Homo sapiens: one gene and its partner. The protein of the gene in region 1 purifies or fractionates together with the protein of each later gene. This does not show direct contact. Each region holds a gene or a part of one and is shown on either strand. Other genes may lie near its edges.

Region 1 (3,827 bases):
TCTTTGTGACTGGTTTATTTCGGTTAGCATAATGCCTTTTTTTGTTTTTTGGGTTTTTTTTTAACTTTTATTTTAGGTTCAGGGGTACATATGAGGGTTTGTTATATAGATAAACTCATTTCACAGGGGTTTGTTGTACAGATTATTTCATCACCCAGGTATTAAACCTGGTACCCAATAGTTATCTTTTCTGCTCCTCTCCCTCCTTCTACCCTCAAGAAGACCCTGGTGTCTGCTGTTTGTTTCTTTGTGTTTATACATTCCCATCATTTAGCTCTCACTTATAAGTGAGAACATGCAGTATTTGGTTTTCTGTTTCTGTTAGTTTGCTAAGGATAATAGCCTCCAGCTCCATCTATGTTTCTGCAAAAGACATGATCTCATTCTTTTTTATGGCTGCATAGTATTCCATGGTGTATATATACCACATTTTCTTTATCTGGTCTGTCATTGATGGGTATTTAGGTTGATTCCGTGGCTTTGCTATTGTAAATAGTGCTGCAGTTGGTTAGCATAATGTCTAAAGTTCATCCACTTTATAGCCTGTATCAGAACTTCCCTCCTTTTATTTTTATTTATTTATTTTTTGAAACAGAGTCTCCCTCCATCAACCAGGCTAGAGTGCAGTGGCACGATCTTGGCTCACTGCAACTTTTGCCTCCCAGTTCAGGTGATTCACATGCCTCAGCCTCCTGAGTAGCTGGAATTACAGGTGCACGCCACCACGCCCGGCTAATTTTTGTATTGTTAGTAGAGAGGGGGTTTCACCACGTTGGCCAGGCTGGTCTCGAACTTCTGACCTCAAGTGATCCACTAGCCTCAGCCTCCCAAAGTGCTGGGATTACAGGTGTGAGCCACTGCACCTGGCCAGAATTTCACTCCTTTTAAAGGCTGAATAATATTCCATTGTATGTATACACTATATTCTGTTTATTCATCTTTTGATGGATACTTTGGTTGCATCTATCTTTTGGCTATTATGAAAAATGCTGATGTGAACATGAGTGTACAGATATGTTTGAGTCCCTGCTTTTAGTTCTTGTGGGTATATACCCAGAAGTGGTGTTGCTGGATTGTATGGTAATTTTATGTTTATGTTTATTTATTTATTTATTTATTTGAGGAACCACTGTTTTCCACAGTGGCTATAGCATTTTACATTCTCATCAGCAATGCATAAGGGCTCCAATTTTTCCACATCCTTGGCAACACTTGTTTTCTTTTTTTTTTTTTAAATAACAACCATCCTAGGCTGGGCATGGTGGCTCACGCCTGTAATCCCAGCACTTTGGGAGGCCGAGGCGGGCGGATCACCTAAGGTCAGGAGTTCAAGACCAGCCTGGCCAACATGGTAAAACTCCATCTCTACTGAAAATACAAAAATTAGCCAGGCATGGTGGCGCACACCTATAATCCCTGAGGCAGGAGGCTGAGGCAGGAGAATGGCTTGAACCGGGGAGGCTGAGGTTGCAGTGAGCTGAGCTCATGCCCCTGCACTCCAGCTTGAGTGACAGAGCAAAACTCCATCTCAAAATAATAATAGTAATATAACCATCCTAAGCAGTGTGAAGTGATATCTCATGATTTTGATTCATATTTCTCTAATGAAAAGATATCGAGCATTTTTTCATGTATTTCATACCTATCGGCCATTTGTATATCTTTGGAGAAATGCCTATTCAAGTCCTTTGCCCATTCTTGGATTGGGTTGTTTGTCGTTGAGTTGTAAGAGTTTTTTAATACATTTTGGACATTAATCCATCTCAGATGTATGATTTGCAAATATTTTCTCCTATTCCATGGATTGCCTTTCACTCTGTTAAAAGTGTCCTTTGATGCACGAAAGTTTTTAAATTTGAAATCTAATTTATCTAATTTTTCTTTTGTTACCTGTGCATTTTGTCTTACCCAAGAATCATTGCCAAATTAAGTGACATGAAGCTTTCCCTCTGTTTTCTTGTTTTTTATATATAATATATATTATACATATTATATAAAATTTATATATAATATATATTATACATATATAAAATTTATATATATTATATAATATATATTTTATATATTATATATACTACAGTATATATTTTATATATTATATATACTATAGTATATATAATATATACTATAGTATATATTATATATAGTATATATTATATATACTATAGTATATATTATACATTATATACACTATAGTATATATTATACATTATATATACTATATATATATATTTTATTAAATATATATAATATATTTTATTATAATATAATTTATTATATATAAAGTATATATTTATATTATATATGATATATATAATATATAAAATATATTTTTTATATATTATATATATTATACATATAGTTTTAGCTCTTATCTTTAGGTCTTTGATCCATTTTGAGTTAATTTTTGTATGTAATGTAAGATAAGGGTCTAACTTATTTCATTTGCTTGTGGATATCCAGTTTTTCCAACACCATTTGTTGAAAAGACTGACCTTTCCCCACTGAATGGTATTCACACCCTTGTCAAAACTCATCTGACCAGATATGTGAGGGTTTATTTCTGGGCTCTCTAGTCTCTTCCATTGGTCTTTATGTTTATCTTTATGCTGATAAAACACTGTTTTGATTACTGTAGCTTTGTAGTAAGTTTGGAAAATCAAGAATGTAAGTCCTCCAACTTTGGTTTTCTTTTTCAAGATTGTTTTGGTTGTTCAGGATCCCTTAAGATTCCATATGAATTTTAGGATGGATTTTACTATTTATGCAAAAAACATTGTTGGGATTTTGATAGGGATTGTATTGAATCTCTAGCTGACTTTGGGTAATACTGACACCTCTAATGATAGCAAGTTTTCCAATTCATGATCACCAGATGTTTTTTCATTTATTTATGTCTAATTTCTTCCAGCAATGTTTTGTATTTCTCAGTGTACAAGTCTTTCACTTCCGTGGTTAAGTTCATTCCTAAGTATTTTATTCTTTTTGATGTTACTGTAAATGGAATTGTTTTAATTTCCATTTCAGATTGTTCATTGTTAGTGTTTAGGCATACAGCTGATTGGATAAAGTTGCTCCAAAACAGATGAAGAAAATTACACCAAAGCAAAAGAAGCATCAGAGAGTGATGAGCGAGCTAGTAACCAGAGAAACTCTCGAGTCAGTGGTTGAGTAAGCAGTGGAGGAGGAGGGCTTAGATCTAGACAGAGTCCGAACGAGAAGCATGCAACAAGTGGAGACCTACCTCGAGGCTGCAGAGGTTGAGGCATGAGAGAGCCAAACTTCAATCGAGCGGGTTCTCAGGAAGCTCTCAGAGAGGATCACAGAGAATCAACAGGAAACAGAAGTCTCTAGAGAAACTCGACTTAAAATTAAGTCAGGCAGTATCACCAGTTGAGCCATAAATAACAGGTTCATCTTCGTAGAAACAAAGCTCGGTGCATTAAATCTTCTTTTGTTTCTACAAAGGCTCCCCAAGGGTTGGCTAACCTTAGAGATGCTATGTCTCTTGCACCTGCAGTCACTTATCCCGCTCTATCAAGCTTGCACTTGGCCAGCCCATCTGCCCCTCCTGCTGAAGGTGATGCATGGGATCCATGCTCGGACTGTTGTAAACCAAGTTCTGTGATACGTCAATTCCTGGTGTTGTCCTATTTGAATATCCTAAATTTCCCATAAGAGTTGTTATGAATGTAACATGTAAATTTACTATCACTGATGATTCCTCTGAAGAATTTCATGCAACCACCAGAAGGTGCAAGATCCTAGAGATCTACATATCTTAGGCATTTTCCAGGAGTACTCCTTCAACTGTCGCCCTGCACCTG
Region 2 (3,827 bases), on another chromosome or scaffold:
GGGTGAAACCTTGTCTCTACTAAAAATATAAAATTAGCCGCGTGTGGTAGTATGCTTCTGTAGTCCCGGGTATTTGGGAAGCTGAGGTAGGAGAATCACTTGAACCCGGGAGGCGGAGGTTGCAGTGAGCCAGATCGAGCCACGGCACTCCAGCCTGGGCGACAGAGTGAGACTCCCATCTCAAAAAGAAAAAAAAAAAGTAAAATAGGTACTGTTACTGAGATTCTACTGTTGAGGAATTTGAGGGTGAGAGAGGGGAAGTTTCAGAAACCAAAGTTACACAGCTGTGAAGTCAAGATTCTAACTCAGTTTTTTTGCTTCGCGGTATAAGCTTTGAATCACCTTGCAGTACTTAAAGCTGCAGCTTCAAGTGAATCATGATAATGCTGTTTAATCCTATCATTACTTTTTCTTGGGGAAACCTCGCGCCACTTCAATTTTTTTCAAAGATGTACCATTTTAACCATTTAAAAGTTCACAATTCAGTAGTGTTAAGGATATGCACATCGTTGTTCCACATTTCTGGAACTCTTTCATCTGGCAGCGCTGAGACTGTAGCCCCCAAATACTGATATCTCCTCCTCCCTCGCCCTCCCCCGGTAACCATCTTTTCTACTTTGTTTCTATGATTTTGACTACTTTCAATACTTTATTTTTTATTTTTTTTGAGATGGAGTTTCACTCTTGTTGCCCAGGCTGGAGTGCAGTGGCACGATCTCAGCTCACTGCAACCTCTGCCTCCCGAGTTCAAACAATTCTCCTGCTTTAATTTCCTGAGTATCTGGGATTACAGTCATGGGCCACCATGCCGGGCTAATTTTGTATTTTTAGTAGAGATGGGTTTCTCCATGTTGGTCAGGCTGGTCTTGAACTCCTGACCTCAGGTGATCACCCCCCATCGGCCTCCCAAAGTGTTGGGATTACAGGCGTGAGCCACCGTGCCTGGCCTTGCCTGTCTTTTTCATCTGAGCCATTCTAGCGGGGTATAGTGGCATCTTGTTAGTTTTAATGTGCATTTCACTGATGACTCATAATGGTGAGCGCTTACATGCTTGTCGGTCTTTGTATGCCTGGATTTGTAAAGTGTCTGTTCAAGACTTTTGCCCATTTAAAAAATTGGATTGTTTGTATTTTTAAGTTCCTTACATATTTATTTATTTATTTATTTTTGAGATGGAGTCTCCTCTGTTGCCCAGGCTTGAGTGCAGTGGCGCGATCTCGGCTCACTGCAAGCTCTGCCTCCCGGGTTCACGCCATTCCCCTGCCTCAGCCTCTGGAGTAGCTGGGACTACAGGCGCCTGCCACCACGCCCAGCTAATTTTTTTTTTTGTTGTATTTTTATTAGATATGGGTTTCACCATGTTAGCCAGGATGGTCTCGATCTCCTGACCTCGTGATCCGCCCGTCTTGGCCTCCCAAAGTGCTGGTATTAACAGGCGTGAGCCACCACGCCCAGCAGTTCCTTACATGTTTTTTTTTTTTCAGATGGAGTCTTGCTCTTGCTCTATTGCCCAGGCTGACGTATTTTTTATACAAGCCGTTTGCCAGATATATATGTGTCGCAAATATTTTTTCCTAATCTATGGCTTAACTTTATTTTTTGGTAGTGCCTTTTAATAAATCAATACTTTTAATTTTTCTTAACCATGCTCTGGCAAGTTTTATTAAAGAAATTTTCGGCTGGGCGCGGTGGCTCACACCTATAATCCCAGCACTTTCGGAGGCCGAGGCGGGTGGATCATGAAGTCAGGAGTTTGAGACTACCCTGGCCAGTATGGTGAAACCCCGTCTCTACTAAAATTACAAAAATTCGCCAGGCGTGGTGGTGTGCACCTGTAGTCCCAGCTACTTGGGAGGCTGAGGCAGAAGAATCGCTTGATCCCGGGAGGCAGAGGTTGCAGTGAGTCGAGATTGCGACACTGCATTCCAGCCTGGGCAACAGAGTGAGACTCTGTTTCAAAAAAAAAAAAGAAATTTTCGCAGGGTTTATTTTTATCTTTTATTTTTTGTTGTTGCCTAAGCAACATCCGCTTTCCTTAATTCTGAAAGCATATCTATAAATAAGTCACCCAAAGGCCAAATAGATGCATTTGTTTTGTCTGGTTGTTAATGTTTTCTTTTTAAAAAAATATTTATGTATTTATTTAATTTTTGAGACAGGATCTTGCTCTGTTGCCTAGGTTGGAGTGCAGTGTCACAGTCGTGGCTCAGTGCAGCCTCGTGTTCAAGTGATCGTCCCACCTCAGCCCCTGAAGTAGCTGGGACTACATGTGCGCACCACCATGACCGGCTTGTTTTTTGTAGAGACAGGGTTTCATGGCATTGCCCTGGCTAGTCTTTAACTTCTGGGCTCAAATGATCTGCTCTCCTTGGCCTCCCAAAGTGCTGGGATTACAGACGTAAGCCACTATGCTGGGCCACCAAGATACTATTTATTTCCCTGAATATGACGTGGACTGTTCCTGTAGGCTGGTCCCTTCACCTCAGGACCCTCTTTGCTGGTATTGTTTGGGGCTTCTGCGCCTGTATATGGGGATGGGACCTGACCCTGCTGATCTGGCCAGCACTGCCAGGGTTTCCTGTTGCCCATCTCTCGGTAAAACATCCCTTATAAACCTTTGCAAGGAAAAAACCTCTGTTTTCTTCCCTCCATCCCATTTTTCCTTAATGTGCTACCCTCGTCTGTATTCATAGGAACTTTATTTAACACTTGAGAACTGAGAGTAATTGACATTTCTTTCTTGGCTGTCCTTCATTCTGTGCACCCAGACCTATTGCTTTTTCTACCACATTCTTTTTCTCTTTTAGAAAATTGAAATGTAAGTCACATCACATCAAATGCCCCATTTTAAAGCGTGCAGTGCAGTGATTTTTAATGTATTCTCTGTTTTGTGCAACTACCATCTATCTAATTCCACACATTCCTTTTCCCTTTTTAGTGCTTGGTGTTTTTTTTTTTTCTTAACTTTCTTCATCACTGTAAGCTTTCCCCACCTGGCTGAATTTCACATGATAAAACCAGGGGAGGTAAAGTGACCAAAGATGATGCCCTTTGCTTCTCTGGCCTTTGCTTTCATTTCATTAATTTTTTTTTTTTTTTTTTTTTTTGAGTCAGAGTCTCGCTCTGTCACCCAGGCTGGAGTCTGGGTGTATATGTATGAACACAGTGGGGTGTGTGGGTGTGTGTGAACATAGTGGTGTGTATGTATGAACACAGTGGGGGTGTGTGTGCGTGAGCACAGTGGTGTGTGTATGTATGAACATAGGGGTGTGTGTGAGCACAGTGGTGCATATGTATGAACATAGGGTGTATGTGTGTGAGCACAAGGGTGTGTGTGTGTGTGTGCGTGCATGCAGAGTGGTAGGGTTCCTGAAGCAGAGGGACACTTGGGGCAAAGAGACCTTGGATTGTGTTCTTCTTGTTGGTAGAATAAGCTTAAATCACTTCATGTATCCCAGTTTCCTCAGCTGTAAATGGGAATTATAATGATAGGTCATCAAACTACCTGCAGACTTTTTTTGTTGTTATTTCGATAAAATATTACACATTTGAAAATGCTCCCAAAACTAACATATTGGACAGATGCGAATTCTTCTTTCCTTTTTTTTGAGATGGAGTCTTGCTCTGTTGTCCAGGCTGGAGTACAGTGGCATGATCTTGGCTCATTGCAGCCTCAGCCTCCCAAGTAGCTGGAACTACAGGCATGTGCCACCACGCCTAGCTAATTTTTATATTTTTAGTAGAGATGGGGTTTCACCATGTTGGCCAGGCTGGTCTTGAACTCCTGACCTCAAGTGATCCGCCTGCCTCAGCCTCCCAAAGTGTT

The links.
Region 2: the proteins of RUSC2 (region 1) and KLC1 purify together in Homo sapiens (affinity purification with mass spectrometry, with the first as the bait; one study listed by BioGRID). This does not show direct contact.

The regions. Positions count from the first base shown.
Region 1 is NC_000009.12:35,492,934-35,496,760, forward strand, and holds part of RUSC2 (AP-4 complex accessory subunit RUSC2), read left to right. Parts: intron 1-3,827. UniProt on the Homo sapiens protein: Associates with the adapter-like complex 4 (AP-4) and may therefore play a role in vesicular trafficking of proteins at the trans-Golgi network.
Region 2 is NC_000014.9:103,635,572-103,639,398, forward strand, and holds part of KLC1 (kinesin light chain 1), read left to right. Parts: intron 1-3,827. UniProt on the Homo sapiens protein: Kinesin is a microtubule-associated force-producing protein that may play a role in organelle transport. The light chain may function in coupling of cargo to the heavy chain or in the modulation of its ATPase activity.